Regions from separate parts of the Homo sapiens genome. Here region 1 is linked to region 2. Evidence: fine-mapped expression QTL. A gene starts in region 2. The other region holds a variant in brackets. All regions are shown on one strand. Distances are between the middles of the regions.

Region 1 (8,339 bases), 66 kb before region 2:
CTCTTTTCACTCAGTTTGAGATCTTGGTGGTTGGTATGATGAGTGATTTGTGATTGAACCCTGGAAATTTGGGGTATTATGTCATGAGAGTCTGATCTTACATAAATTTTCTGTTCTAACTGGCTTCCTCTGACACTGCACTGATAGGGGAAGGGGGGTTCCACTGCCAGGTGGGGCTGGAAGTCCAGGTTTCCCACTTGGCCTTTATTAACACCTGAGAGAGAGAACTCCTTGTTACTGCTGGGCAGGGGTGCAAGTTCCAGCCCCCATCTAGGCCTCCCTGGTTGAGGGGAGGGGTAGGAGTGTCTCATGAGTGTTCTCCAAATAGCCTCCACTGACACCATAGGGGTAGAGGGTAGCCTCATTATGGCTGGCTGGTGGCGAAAGGCCCAGCCCTCTCCACAGGCTTCCTGACACCCACCCTCCAGCAGGAGGGGAGAGATGTCTTATTACTGCCAAGGGGCCATGGAAATCGAGGCTCCCATGTGGGTGCAGTGTGCCTGGTACTGCCAGGAAGGATGAATATTCTCACTTGGCCTTCTTTGATACCAGTTTTTGGAGGACAGGAGATTTTGGTGCTTCCTTACAGTCTGGCCAAGTCTCCCCACTTGGCCTCTGCTGGCCTGGGGACGACCAAAACTCTGCTTTAGCCAATGGAATGTGGGTAAATTTGATAGGAGCAGGAGACTTGAATATGTTAGCGCAGTTTTGTTTAATCTTTTTTTTTTTTTTTTGAGATGGAGTCTTGCTGTCACCCAGGCTGATGTGCAGTGGCACAATCCAGGTTCAGTGCAACCTCCGCCTCCCAGGTTCAAGTGATTCTACTGTCTCAGCCTCCCAGGTAGCTGGGATTACAGGCACGTGCCACTATGCCCAACTGTTTTTGTATTTTTTTAGTAGAGATGGGGTTTTGCCATTTTGACCAGGCTGGTCTCAAACTCCTGACCTCAGGTGTTCCGATGCCTGCATCTGCCCCCCAGAGTGCTGGGATTACAGGTGTGAGCCACCGAACCCGGCCTAGTTTAATCTGTTGCTTGCCTGCCATTCACTAAGGGAAGAACGTGCTCCAGGTTTAAGGACCTGAACACAACCTGCAACTTGGAGGCTGAAGCCCAGATTTTAGCCTATCCCAGCTGACTCATACACCCTGCAGTAAGAAATCAATGCTTGTTGTTTAAATGCTGAGTTTTGGTGGTCCTGAGGCCAGCAGAGGCCAAGTGGGAAGCCTTGGCCTTGATAGTGAAGCCCTTTTTCAGGGGGGCAGGGAACTATATCTGCCCAGTAACTTTACAGTATCTTTCCATTGTACGTAGAGGATGTGGATGTATAATCCTATTGTAGGAGAGTAAAAAAAAACTGAGTCCAATGCAAGATATTACAATTAATTGCTGATCTTATCTTTATTGTCCTCCATTTAGTTACTTTGGACCCTGTTCTTTTTCTAATTTCTTGAGTTAGATGATTAACTCATAAATTTTCAGACTTCTTTGAGTATATGAGGCTGTAAATTTCTGTAAAGGTAGCTTTAGCTGTACCGCATGAGTTTTGATACATAGATTTTCATTATTATTCAGTTGAAATGTTTCTTTATATCTCTTACAATATTGTCTTTGACCCAAAAACTACATGTTTGAAAATTTCCAAATGTATTTTTATGTTTTTGTTACTGCTTTCTAAGTTAATTATACTGTGGTCAGATAATACAATCTGTATGATATTGATTCTTTCAGTATTTGTAAGGTTGGTTTTATGTCTTAATATGTGGCTAATTTTCATAAATGTTCCATGTGTAAGAGTATATATATTTTTAATTTGTGATATAGGGTTTATTACATGTTCATTATATAATAGTCATTATGTTAACATCTGCTAAACATTTATTAATTTTTTATTTATTTGATCTGTCAATACTAGATTGTTTTGGAGTTACCTGGAGTTGACCTTTTCCTTGCACTTCTCTTTGTTTTCTATGTTCTTAGGCTGTTTCTATGTTTCCTTGTACTTCTTTTTGCTTTCTATGTTTTTAGGCTGTTTTAGGTACATAATATTTAGAAATGTCACATCTTCCTTAGGAATTGAAATTTTACAACCATGGAGAAGCTCTCCTTAAAGCAAAAAAGCATTTCTAGAGGTATTTTGAGATACCTACACCAGCTTTTTAGTTAATATTTGCCTGATATTATCTTTTTTCCATTCTTCTATGTGTGACCTTTGTGTTCTTTCATGTTTGAAGTATCTCTTAATGATGGCATAGAGCTAATCTTAAAAATATAATCCAGTTGGACAATCTGACCTTTCAAATGACTTAGCCCCTTTATATAATGATTATTGAATACTTTTATATTTCTAGAATCTTTCTGGTGCTGCCAAAAGATATACATTTTCCCCATGTTGCAATATCTTTGAAATTAAAGTGTTTCTTACAATTCATGTTGTAGTTAGCAGCTTTTTTTAACTTAGTAGCATGTAAAATTTAAGTACATTTTACAACTGATGTCATCCTAGATTTCTTAGATTCTAAGAAATACAATATTTACTCAGATTTTCTTAACTTTCTCTTCCCCTTCCACCCCTTTTATCTTTATTGACTTAAGGTTTTTCATTTCCTTTTTTCCCTTATACCTGGAATTTTCACATCCTGTCTGTATCGTTTTAGTGATTACTCTTAAAATTGTAGCAAGCATGCTTTAGTTAAATTCTAAAGGTAATCGGTGTCTTATTCAGATTCTTCTAGAAGCTGCCCTTGAGACAAGAACTTGAGTACAGGCATTTGGAAGTAAAATCAGGAAGCACAAGTGAATGAATGGGACAGTGAGATGGGGAAGAGAGAGAAGCCAATACGGGAAGCCCTCATGGGCAGGTAACTGTTGTGGATAACATGCTCAAACCCTCTGAATAAGCAAATGGAATGTGTCTGACAATTTTCCCGCCAGGGGATAAGGAGGTCAGGACATTTATCTGACTCCTCTATTGGTTGAACGTTATCCATGGGTGTTAACTTCCCTAAACTTCCAGGTTACAGGTGCTTAAGGCAGAGCACGTTTCTGTGGTTCAGGAGAAGGACATTGGGCATGGGAGAGAGACATGTGCTTCAGCAGGAGCTGTCAGCCTGTTGAAAACTGTCTACCACAGTTGCAAATGAACTTGGGTGGGCAGAAAGGATACTGGGGAAACCGGTATCAACAGTGCCTGCTACGATTAGTATATTTCTAATCTCCTCCTGCCGATTGCCAAAACCTTGAACTTTTCATTTCAATTACCAATTCTACTTCATATATTAATCAGTACATATTTTATTTCCACTATTTTGTATACCTCCTAAAACAATGATTATTTGTATTATTTCAAACAATGGTCATTTAGTTTTACCCATATGTTAATCAGTTTCCTTGCTCACCTTTCCTTCTTGAGAATCTCACTTCTTTTTTTGGGGGGTTTAATTTTTCTTCCTTTAGTTATGTTTTCCTCACCATCTGAACTTTCTGGTTCCTAGGTTTGGATAATGAATTTGGATACTGAGACTGTAAAGTATATCATGTTATGCAAGTCTATTTCGTTCCTGCATTTTAGATAGCAAATAGCAAGTGTTTTCATAGAGTGGAATTTATGTAGTTTAACTTTTTTTTTTCCAGAAACAGTCTGTTAGGGAATTTAGTCTTTGTCTTTGTGAAAATGACTTTTTTCTCAGTCCTGAATGATAGTTTGACTAGGCATAAAATTGTAGGTTCATTCTTACCTTCTCTCAGCACTTAAAAGATACAAGGTGACCTCAAAATTTCATGGAAACTGGAATTAAAAGATAAAAATAAAGCATTTTATTTCTCAACATAAACTCTATCAGTTCAAGACACTTTTGAAAGCAATGATACCAGCCATTTAGTCCATCCATAAAGAACTGAGGGTCTTGGGAATTTAACACATCAGTGCAACCTTTTTTACATTATTAGGTGAAGAAAAATGGGTGCCCTTTAAAGATTTTATAAGATGAGGAAACAAATAGTAATCAGAAGGAGCCAAATCAGAACTGTAAGGTGGATGCCTAATTTTCCATCAAATCTCATGAAATTGCCCTTGTTTAAGAGGAATAAGCAGGAGCATTGTCGTAGTGAAAGACTCTCTAGCAGTCTTCCTGAGTATTTTTCTCATAAAGCTTGGCTTTCTCAAAACACTCATAATAAACAGATGATATCATTCTTCAGCCCTCCAGAAAGTAAACAAGAAAAATGCCTTGAGCATTCCAAGAAACTTTTGCCACGATCTTTGCTCTTCACTGGTCTGCTTTTGCTTTGACTAGGCCACTTCCACCTCTTGGTAGCCATTGCTTCTGATTCCATTTCAATGTGTCTAATGTATACCTACTTTTATTTATACCATTCAGGGGTGTTGTGACCATAGAGCTAGGTAAAGAAAAGAGAGAAGCAGAGTCTACCAATACCAGACTCTTGGTAGCCACGAAAAATACGTAGTTTAGTCAAGTAGTGATGACATTAGGGAACAAAATCAGCTGAAATTTGGTTGGAGATTGTAGAATTCAGATGATTCAAATCAAGTAATAAAACTGAAAGATTACAAAAAGTATTGTGTGATGGTGTATAACTGAAACAGTAGGTACCAACCCTACCTGAAAGGTCCTTAACAATCTAGAGATTATTAAAACTGGACTCAGTACATCCATCTGTGATGCATGAAGCCACACTTGACACAGGCA[C/G]TTCCAAGTCTGGTATCCCTGTGCCAAATGTCTCTATGTCTCTGTCCAGTTGCAAATCCAACTTGCCTTGGGTGATAATCACATCATGAATTGTCTCAGTAACCTAAAATAACACTGAACTTTAGTGGGTTAAGTGTCTTTTAACCCCAGGAATATAGAAATTATGAAGTGCATCAAACCCATGACATTAGTTTATGTTACAGTCAAGATAATCTGAGTGGTGGGTATATAAAATGCTGGTAAAATATAATTGAATGTGGCATATTAAAGTAAATGACAAATTGACCTGTCATTCCAAATTAAATGTGCATTGGATTTGAGGTTGGATGGTATAAGAGGAAGTGACTTAACTTATAAAGAGTGTTAGGATAGTTAAAAGAACTGTAGCTGCTTAATAATGAGGGAAGGATTCGTTTGTTAGGTCATGAGTTTGTTGAGTTTAGACTTCTAATTTCTTAAAGAAAATGGAATATATTAAATTTATAAATGTTAAAGTGCTTACAGAAAACTAGTCTGTTCAATTCAGGTTTACTTAACATTAATCAAAATCAAACTCCCTTAAGTAATCAGTCCAATTTAATAAGGCTCCCTGAAAATAATTATTTTATATAAAACTTACTGGGTTTAAAACAGTATAATACAATTTATAAGATAAATTTAGAGGTTTAGGGAAAACTGTTTACATTTACAATTTTAGTAAACAAAACTTTATTTTTAGTTATTTGGGTTTGATTTTTAATCTATGTGCACAAAACCTGCCCTTGGACTTAAAAAAATTCTCACATAGAAACTGAATCTAAGGATTCATATTCTTTACCGATGTAGTCTCTTGCTGATTCTCTCTAATCTCACCTTCTGAAATTTGTACTGAATATAAATTGAACCTTTTCACTCTATCTCTCATGCCTCTCATTTTTTAATGTTTCCTTACCCAAAATGTAGCACAGAGAAATCACTTCTTTTCCAGTTCCCAATTCTATCTTCATCTGGATCTGATTAATCTTTCCACTGGGAATTTTTCCTTAATTTCAATGGCTCTATTCTCATTTCACATCAGACACAAACCTTGTGTACTTTCTCAGAGCCAAACTGCCTCCCTTGTTCTCAAAATTCCTCCTATTTGCGATAACTCCCTGGAGTAAACAGGCGCACTGCCGCCTCTACTCGGCTTCCCAGACTGGCTGGGGGCCTGAGATTGAACGGACCTCACATCTCACATGCCATGCCTGTCTGCAACAAGTCATTCCTCCACTTATGGACATAGGATCTGGCTTTCTGAGTGACATCAAAGGATGAATAATGCAATAATTATGAGTTAGGTCTCCATGGTGTGAAATTTGAGCAATGGGAAATGAGAAACAGGAAGGAGCTGGGCAGAGAAATTCCCCCTTCTTTTCTCCCTTCTAATCAGAGGTGGTGCTTCTTTTTTAAAACTTTCCAGAAAGGTACTGTGTGCTAAGCAAATATACCTTCTATGTGACTAGCTGTGTTTCTTCATGGCTTCTCAAGAACCAGTGGCTAGTGCAGTAATGCCTCATATTACATTGCTTCACATCTTTCTTTGCCCCACTTCCCCCTTTTCTCCCTCACTTTCATGTCACTGGGCTTGTAATTTCTAAATAAAATATCTCCATCTTCATCCTTGTCTCAAGCTCTGCTTTCTAGAGAACTTAAACTAAGAGAGTCTTTAACACTTTTATTTGATTTTGATAATTTAGCCTTCTCTTATATTTAAAAAAAACTATTAATGTAACTTCCAGCCAGAGAGAGTAAAAGATGCTTAATGATATTGATTCCCTGTGGAATACTATGCAGTCATAAAAAAGAACAAGGTCATGTTCTTTGCAGAGACATGGATGGAGCTGCAGGCCATTATTCTTAGCAAACTAACACAGGAACAGAAAACCAAACGCTGCATGTTCTCACAAGTGGGAGCTAAATGATAAGAACACATGGACACATAGAGGGAAACAACACACACTGGGGCCTATCAGAGGGTGGAGTGTGGGAGGAGAGAGGGGATCAGGAAAAAATAATAGGTACTAGGCTTCATACCTGGGTGAAATAATCTGTGCAAAAAAACCCCATGACACAAGTTTACCTGTGTAACAAATCTGCCCATGTACCACTTAACTTAAAATTTTAAAAAATGCTTACAATTACTATCTTTTAAATTTGAGACTATAATCCCACTTTTAATACTGACAACTCTCACTCATGGTGAATTCTTTTCTTATGTGTTTTGTGATTGTGGATTGTGAGTTCACCTTTAGCAGGGCTGTATTGAAGGGAACTCTGAGAAACCTTAGATAAGGTTTTGTCCCTCCAGAGAGGACTTACATTCTCTTTGTTACAGATATTACCAGCTTGGGAGTTCTCAGCCACATAAGAGATCTAAATGTGAAACTCTGCCTTCAGGGAGAGCAGGTGTCTGGGGGAATCCTATCCCTTTATTCAAATACAAGTAAAAACAGACAAGCTTCCTTGATATCCCTCTTTGCTGAAGGGTTGATCTTGTTTTTAGTTGCTGCCCTTCTTCTGAAAATATAGTAGTAGTTCTTTGATAGTTTTCGGCTTCATGTGCAAAGCCTCCATCATGGTCTCTGAGGTAGACAAACCTAAGGACAGCTACAATGTGAACTGAAGAATACTTCTGGTTTTCAATTCTCTATTCATTTTTGCTCCAGGATTTATGTTATTATAAGCTCAGCTATGCATTTAGAAGATTATTTTCTGTATTTAATCATACTTTCATGGTATTTTATAATGAAAAGGTTTTTGGATTATCTAATCTGCTACAATGCTACAGCATTTCTGTAATACTAGAAATGTAAGATGGGGTCTATCTTTAACAATCAAAATGGACTGAGTTATTACTATTTCTCAAGTATGACTATTACCATATTAAATGAATTAACTCATCTTCTCAACTCTGTGAGGTGTAGGTACTACTGTCTCCACTGTGTTAATCTGGGTCCTCCAAGACAAAGGTGACAAGACCAGAATAAATGTGCAAGTATGTTCAGGGAAATGCCTTTGAAAAAGAAATGGGAGAAAGAGGGTAAAGGCTGGGAGAATCATGTCATAACCCAAGATTGACTCTGAGTGAAGGAGAAAGGGAGAAAAGGCTGGGTAGAAATGTCTTAGACTACACAGCAGTTTCGGAAATGTTCAGCAAAGCCTTTGGAGAGTCTTTGAGCCACAGTTGGTTAAGAAAGGAGTCCCGTGTCTTTCGGGAATAGATGTACCTTAGTACCCCTGCCATTTTCAGTCATTAGTGGGGAGCAGCCCGGAAGAGATGTGACCCTGGCACACATGCTATGATGGATTCCAAACTGTAGCAACTGGGACCCTTGGCTAGTTATGTGCTCTGCACTAGAAGGTCTGCCAGGTGCATTTTCATGCCACCACACCCACTCTGTGCATGAGTAAACAAACACAAAGAGGTTGACCAGCATGCTCAAGAACACACAGCTGGCACGTAGTGGAAACAGGATTCCAACTTGGGTACTTTGACTCTGGGACACAACTTCTTAACAACTATGTCATGCTTTTTTGTTGTTAAATAAGATTTTATTGCATTGAAAATTCACATTCTTTGTACAGAAAGAATATTAAGTTAAACAATTGT
Region 2 (8,339 bases):
CTGACATCCAACCCCTATGGTGTTCCTCAGTTCCTCAGTCTCTGCCCTCCTCCCACACACCCCAGTTTGGGGGTGTTCTCCCCAAGTAGCACCCGTCTCCCCTCAGTCCCAGGCCTGGCACTGCCCCTCACCATGGCTTCCATGCGCGCCCGCCGCTCCTCCTCCTCCTTCCTCCTCCTCATGGCCTCTAGATCCTGCCGGGCCTCTGAGAAGGCCTGCAAGAAGGTATCAAAGATGCCAAAGAATTCGTCTGGCTGCATCTTGCTGTCATGCTCCCCGAAGTGCATCAAGGCCTTGGCGAACTGTCAAGGGACAGAACAGGATTGGTGGAGAGTGCCCTGGAGCATGCTGGGCTCAGCCCCTGAGGTTAGCTGGGTTCTAGCCAGAGCAGAGCCCAGCGCAAGGCTGGGGACTGTTGGCACAGGGGGCAGGGCTGGAAGAGGTGAGAAGACACCCCCATCATCATCAGGATCAGAGACAAGGCTAAGGAGAGGCAGGTAAAGAGTTGGGCTCACTCAGTCCACCTTAGAGCCACCCCTGGGCCTGTAAGGGGTAGGCATGAGGTCAGGGGTATAGACCTTGGGAAGCCCTTCCTGAGGTCAGGAAGAGGCTGGCAGAACTCAGAACTTCAAAGATCCTCTAGTTATGTTAATAACCCCTCTGTGCCTCAGCTTCCTCCACTGTCAAATGGGAATAATAGAATCTACATCATAGTGGTGTTGGGGGGTTAGATGAGTTGGTGGCTATAAAACAGTGGCTATATTTATATAGGCCAGGCACTGTTCTGAGTTACTGAGAGCTACCATTGTTAATTCAACTCACTCAGTATCCTCTAAGAAAGATCTCACTACTCAAAAGTGTGCTTCATGGACTAGCAGCAGATTCACCTCCTGTTAGAAATGCAGAATCTCAGACCCCAGGCCTCCTAAATGAGAATCCATGTTTTAATAAGACCCCCATACATGAGGTCTATGGACACGTTAGTGTGAGAAGCAGATAGAGGCATGGTAATCATGTCCACTGCTGAGCTGTGGTGTCAGATTCTAACCCAGTTCTATAACTTACAGCTGGGCAATCTTGGGCAAGTTACTTAGCATCTCTGATTTTAGCGTTCATATCTGTCAAGTGGGAAATAACCTTTCAACAAACCCATAAGGTAGGTGGTGACAAATCATTAAAACACTTAACATGGTGCCTGATATCTGATAAATGGACCATGATCTTTGCGGTATGTGGTTATCATTGCTTGTCTTGTTAAGAGCGAAGAAACGGTTTTCTCTCAAAGCTCTGTAACTCTGGGTTTGTCCCTCCTGGGCTGTCTGTGGTAGGAATGGGTGAAGGAGCTTGTTTAGATAAGGCTGGGTTGGCAAGCAGTGGGGGTTGGGGCACCCTTACCTTGTCCCTGGCCTCATTTAGCTGGTCCTCCAGCTCGGAGAAGCTGAAGCTGGACACCGTGATGAAGTCGCTCATGACAGGGACAAACTTGTCACTGGGCTCCCGTACCTGGCGCCTCTGATACTCCAGCTCCTGAGGAGGGAGGGTGAAGTGCTGCTTAGACTGGTGCCAAGATGAGAGTCGGGTGCAGGGGTCACCACATCTCCCCTCGTCACTCACAGGACATTGAGCCCTTTGGAAGAGGGAACACCCTGCATCTCAAAGTTCTAAGGATGGCAAAGACTATGAGCTAACATTAGCAGCCAGCCCACCCTGCCATCTTTCTTTCTCTAGAGCACTGAGACCCAACATGTGACCTGGGGCCAGCAGCATCACCTAGGAAATTATGAGAAATACAGACTCTCAGACCCACAGGATCAGAAGCTGCATTTTAACAAGACTCATCTTTACAAGACTCCAGGTGACTCATGCACAAATTAAAGAGACATTTTTCTAAAGCTCCCAGCTGATTCAGAAGCTGCTGGTCCATGTACCGCACTTTGAGTAGCACTTAACAGGACTATAAAATTGTAAATTTGGAAATCATCTTCCCCCACCGTAGTGGCAACAAAACGTTCTTTGTCATCCTTAATCTGTCTCTAAAGTCCATTCTTCCCTTACCCACTGCCTCTCTCCTCAGTGAAGACGGAACGGGTCCCTTCTTCCTAGGTGTGGGGGACAAGACTTAGAGACATCCCCATACTGGGCCAGTCTGGCTCACTTCCCCACTCCTCTACTGGTGTTTTCTGGAAGGCTAGGGCCAGAGATAGTATCAGCCGAGAAGCCATCAGAACGGGAATGGTGGGAACAAAAGACCTGGGTCCTCCACTGGCCCAGGAAACAGGCAGAGAGACATAAGGAAGAACCTTCTGGGTACATCGGTCCCACTGCCACATTGCGTGCTTCCTGCCCCTAGCTGGCAGTCAAGGGATGAGGATTCTTTTTCCCATGCACTTGAATCCAATGTAGGCATGGGTCAGATGTATGGTTCATTCCACTCCACTGCCAAATAGATACCAAGTTGGACAGTAACATGGGTATAGTCTTAGGTAACCCCTTTTAAAAGGCTCAAACTTAAGCCCCAGTAATCCAGTTATCCTTTGGGAGGGCTGACCCTGTGCTAGAGGCTGTACCCATTGTTTTTTGCCCCTGTGTAGGAGCTTAGGGTGCAGTGACGAACAGTGTTTGCTGACAGCAGCCCTCACCCAGGTAGGCACTGACAAGGTACTCACCACCTCCACCGCTCTCAGGCCCCTCCTGAGGTTGCCCACCTCCTTCTCCAGTTCTGCTAGGCTGTAAGGAGACACAGAGGGAAGGGAATGAGGACCATCAACTCCCGCCTTGAGGTGCTAAGGCTGGTTCAGGGAGAGGGCAGAGCCAAGCACAGTGGCCTGGGAGTCGGTGAGCCTGGGTTCCAGCCCTGGTGTGGCCATTGATGTTGGCCCTGACAAAGCACCTCCCCTTCATGCCTCTGTCTGTGCATCAATAAATTAACAAGGTGAAGCCTGCATTCTATAGATCTTTCCAGGTCAGAAATGTCATGCTGCAATATCAGAAGATTTCCAACCTGTGGCCTCTGGCTTAGACCTATTTATTTTTATTACTACCAGGTAATGCTTATAAGCTCTTTATGTGATCCTGCAAGCAATAGCATTCGATACCAGTGAGCCATTTACCACTATGTTTCTAGTTTTCCTGGAGATGACATCTATCAGCCTAGATGTTCGTGTCTGATATCTTGCCTAGCAGATGCTGTTGGTGCCCCACCCACATTTCCTTGGACCATCCATTGTAGGGCATGGCCCCAACTCTTCCAACTGTACGCACACTCTTTTTGAGGCCAAGCTCTTTCCACCTGTACCTGTGGCCAGAGAGTTATTCCCTGCCCCTGCAGAGCCCCTCAGCCAATTACTGAGAGGAGATGCTCTCTGATTGCCCCAGCAACCTTGCCCTTTGGGTGGGAAAACTGAAGTAACTATTCCACACTGTTTCCCAGAATTCCTCATGGGGTTAAGCACCAATTGCCTGTGATTGGTAACTGGCTTAATAATGTTTGTTACTGGCATTCTTTCTATCTCTGGCTCACTTCCCCATTCTTCTACTGGTATTTTCTGGAAGCATCTCTGAAATAAGGATTTAAGAGCAAATTGTCTTTGTTTGGTTTTTCCCAGAAGCAGACCCTGAGACATGGCCCATTCCTACTCAGCCTGAGGCAGGATAGGTAGTCAAGGAAGTGAGCACTTCTCAGAACACAGCAGCTGTGGTGGTGCCCATACAGTCAACACAATAAACCTCAGCATTCGCATTGTAATTGAGCTCATTCAAGCAAAGCTATCTGCAGTAGGGACTTTCCCCTCTGGAAAGCATGCGCATTTTGATTTTACCTATCCTCAGACTGGCCCTTTGCTCATATAATAGTAAAAAAACACACCCCTAGGTGGAGATTTAAGGTGCTAATGAGACATGCGATGTATGAAAAAGCACACACAGCTACTACACATGTGCACCCAGAGGACCACTCAGAGCCTGCTTCCCAATACCTCTTCCCACCTCTTTATGAATAATCGTGTAAGTCTCCCATACTGGGAGTCTTCCTGGTGCCAGTCTTGGCTGTCTCATCCTTACAAGCAGCCCACCCTGAATCCTCTCTCTCTCAGGGTGTACTGTCTATTCTGCACCTAACTCACAAGATATCTTCTTTTGCAATACATTGTTCTATGCTAAACCCCCTTTGCTGTGTGTCTGTTTAAATTCTTTTGAACTCAGAAGACAAGAACCGAGGTCTCACACCAGCCATCATCAAGCCCAGAGTAGACCCCAAAAGAGGAAAGTAAGACAAGAATGAGGGTCATCATGGGGAGAAGGAAGTCTTGGAGAGAACCCTCACTTGACTTTGGCAGCTTCTGGAAGATGTTGCAGCTCTGAAGGCATGTTTAGAATATCAGGAAAATGCTTCTCCAGGATCATGATCAGGTAATGGAGCAGAGAGATGTTTCTGTGGATGAAAGTCAGGTCAGTGGTAAGTGACAGAGGAAACTGGGCACGAGGGTCAGAGGGTCAGAGGATGGAGTGTTAAGAGAAAGGGGTGATGAGTCTTAGGATGTTCCCGTCCTAATAGAGGGAGGATGTGAGAGGCCAGGGTAGGGTGAGATAGAGGCCAAGGAAGTGGCCGGGAAGGGAGGTCCTCACCTGTCGATGCTGGACTTGGTGTCAGCGATCTTGTTGAGGCTGGCCACCCGGAACCCGTAGGCGCCCCCACGCTGCCCTTTGTTCATGAAGTTGCCTATGGCTAGGATGACCTCTAGCATCTGTCTAAGACGCTTGCTGCGGACCAGCTCCCGGGAGGCCAACAGGATGGCTGGGAGAGGAGGCACAGGTCAGAGGCCTGCATGGGCTAGGCAGGGCAGCAGTTCTCATTGCACCCCAGGAAGATGCCACCGCAAAGTTCAGAAAAGGGGCTGTCAAATGCCTTCAACTCTCAGTGAGGCAGAGATTATACCTACTCCTCAGCAGACCCATCGATTTCACATTCACCCACCTCCAGGGGAAGCAGACACATTCACCAAGGCCAATTCACCAGATACCCCATTTGTAGGACGTGCCAGCTCTTCCCAAGAAGACAATTTCAGAAGATCTTTTCTTACATGTATTTAAAGATTATTAAGAAGGCCGGTTGCGGTGGCTCACACCTGTAATCCCAGCACTTTGGGAGGCCGAGGCAGGGAGATCACTTGAGTCAGGAGTTCGAGACCAGCCTGGCCAACGTGGTGAAACCCTGTCTCTACTAAAAATACAAAAAATTAGTCAGGTGTGGTGGTGCATGCCTATAATCCCAGATGCTTGGGAAGCCAAAGCAAAAGAGTCCCTTGAACCCAGGAGGCTGAGGCTGCAGTGAGCCAAGATTGCCTCACTGCACTCCAGCCTGGGCAAGAGCATGAGACTCTGTATCAAAAAGAAAAAAGAAAAAAGAAAAAAAGATTATTCAGATATTCTTTCCATGAATATACTCATGAATATGACACTTTTACTTTTCTAAACCTAGCACTTAACTTCAGCATTTTACCTATTATGGGATTGCTTCTGCCTGTCTTGAAATGCTATATTCTATTGGTTTTTTGGAAAGAAAAAAAATCAATTAAATAACATATTCTAAATTATAATATTCTATTATTTTTGTTCTATAAAATAATGGCATGCTTTTCAGTTGATAGTGTCTAAGATTTGATGAAATAAGCTACTTGACATCCTGTTGAATGTCATTTTTAAGATTTTTCCAACCTTTGGGCATCTTAACCATTTTCCCCCAATGCTCTAAATGTTATCTTTGCCAGAAATACAAACTAAGCTAACAGTAACCAAAACTTCAATAATTCATTCTGCTGTGTATGCTCTGGCCCTTCCTCAGCTATGATGTCTTTATGGTGGGTGTGCAGAAGGGGGACACAAATCCTAAACTGAGATTTTGTCTACTAGTTACGGAATATGATTTTTGAATATTCAGTGTGGCAACAAAAAGACCAGATTATCCTGTGATCTGTGGCTTATGCCAAACTGAACATTCTTTAAGATGCTGCTAGGAAGATAAAATGAAAACGACTTTGCTAAAAGTTTGTAGAAAGCTTCGAACACAGTTAGAAATAAGTAACTGTTAAAAAGAAGCTATACCAGCACTTTGGGAGGCTGAGGCAGGCAGATCACCTGAGGTCAGGCATTCGAGAACAACCTGGGTGACACGGTGAAACCCCATCTCTACTAAAAATACAAAAATTAGCCAGGCGTGGTGGTGCACACCTGTAATCCCAGTTACTTGGGAAGCTGAGACAGGAGAATTGCTTGAACCCAGGAGACAGAGGTTGCAGTGAGCCGAGATCACACCACTGCACTCCAGCCTGGGCGACAGAGTGAGGCTCCGTCTCAAATAAATAAATAAATAAATAAATAAGTAAATAAAGTTGTAAAAATGAATAGTAAGGTTTGTCAGTAGCTTTTAAGTTGAACATGTACATACTCTATAACCTAAAAGCCACATTATTCTTGGTGGGTATTTGGGTTGTTTCTAGGTTTTTTAAATTCCAAATAGAATGGGTAAATTATGGTGTATTCATATAATGGAATAAAATGCAGAACTGAAAATGAATACCCCACTGCTACATGTAACAGCAGGGACAACCCACAACCATAATGTTGAGCAAAAGTCACCAGCCTAAAATTATTCATACTCTATCATTCCTTTCATATAAAGTTCAAAACAGGCCAGGCATGGTAGCTCATGCCTACAATCCCAGCACTTTGGGAGGCCAAGGTGGGCAGATCACTTGGGCCCAGGAGTTTGAGACCAGCCTAGGCAACATGGTGAAACCCTGTCTCTACAAAAATACAAAAATTAGCCAGGCTGGTGGCATGTGCCTGTAGTGCCAGCTACTTGGGAGGCTGAGATGGGAGGATACCTTGAGCCCAGGAGGCAGAGGTTGCAGTGAGCCAAGATCACACCACTGCACTCCAGCCTGGGTGACAGGGCAGGACCCTGTCTCAAAAAGAAAATAGGTAAAAATTTAAAAAATAAAGTTCAAAACCGATAAAACTAAACTAGCAGTCAAGATGGGTTTGACCTTTAGAGAGGAGGGAGGGGGGTAAAGTTTGGGAGGGGGACATGAAGAAGGCTCTGGGGGGTTGGAAGCTGTATTTCTTGACCTGGGTGTTGATTACACATGTGGTTCCCTTTTTTAATTCTTCAAGTAGGACTCTTATGATTTGTGTACTTTTCTATATGCATGTTATGTTTCAAAAATAGTTTATTTAAAAAGAATACTTGGGAAAGTTTCTGGCAATTTATATTGGTTGGGATGTTTTTTCTAAGGTTTATATGCTATTTGGAAAATCTGCAAAGGAATCCTCCTAAAAATGCTAAAATGTTGGCAAAACAGAAAATGACAAGAGTTCAAAGGAAATCAGTGTAAATGGGAAAACGCCCAGATGCAGTTCTGACATTTTAGATATATTCACAAGAATAATATATTCATGAATATATTCATAAGAATATTACATTTGCAACCATATTCATCTTGACTATATTCGGTGAATGTATTTATAATAAGAATCGGTAAATGTGGTATATTCAGCAATATATTCATAAGAAGAATATATTCAAGAATTGTAAGTTCATGAATATATTCATAGAAGAACTGGTAAATTTGTCAAATTTGGTGAACTAGCTTTTGGCAAATGGACTCAGAGCCCCTGCTGGGGATAGGAGGGCAGGTGTCAACAGCTCATCACACCTAGCTGGGATAGGCTAAATCTTAGCTCTTCCAGGAATACTTCCTGGGAGAACTGGAAGGAAGAATAAGAATCCCATCTTTGCACAATCCTCTTTTCTCCACTTATAGTCACACACACTGATCTGATTCTATAATACACAACTTTAGGCATATCTTTCCTATCTAGCTCTTAGAGGAAAGAGACTTATGTCTGGTCTATACAAGGACAGCAGCCATTGCTATACAGAGCAATTATTATAGAGCAGAGCTATAGAAGAGTAGCTTTCCCCAGCAGATCTTGCTATCCCAAACACATCTTACTCGGCTTAGCTTGATATCAAATGGAGACTCTTTCCTGAATATCCACTGACTAATTCTTTTTTTTTTTCTTTTTTGAGATGGAGTCATGCTCTGTTGCCCAGGCTGGAGTGCAGTGGTTCCATGTCGGCTCACTGCCAGCTCCGCCTCCTGGGTTCATGCCATTCTCCTGCCTCAGCCTCCTGAATAGCTGGGACTACAGGTGCCCACCTCCATGCCCGGCTAATTTTTTTGTATTTTTTAGTAGACACGAGGTTTCACCGTGTTAGCCAGAGTGGTCTCAATCTCCTGACCTTGTGATCCGCCCGCCTTGGCCTCCCAAAGTGCTGG

The links.
Region 1: its variant is fine-mapped to the expression of DAAM2-AS1 in lung (TOPMed, PIP above 0.99).

What each region holds. Positions count from the first base shown.
Region 1 is chr6:39,958,957-39,967,295 of GRCh38, reverse strand. LOC102723789 (a long non-coding RNA gene) reads right to left here. Exons shown (of 6, transcript XR_001744112.1): 4 at 3,737-3,786. Among named protein-coding and RNA genes, the nearest start is that of MOCS1, 29 kb to the right of the region's middle. The variant C/G (reference allele first, on the strand shown) is at 4,709.
Region 2 is chr6:39,893,265-39,901,603 of GRCh38, reverse strand. It overlaps DAAM2-AS1 (DAAM2 antisense RNA 1), which reads left to right and starts at 4,224. Exons shown (of 4, transcript NR_125831.1): 1 at 4,224-4,407. It overlaps DAAM2 (dishevelled associated activator of morphogenesis 2), which reads right to left. Exons shown (of 25, transcript NM_001201427.2): 20 at 4,624-4,792; 21 at 4,322-4,429; 22 at 2,667-2,727; 23 at 1,396-1,527; 24 at 132-302. RefSeq lists enhancers at 3,489-4,005, 4,306-4,805.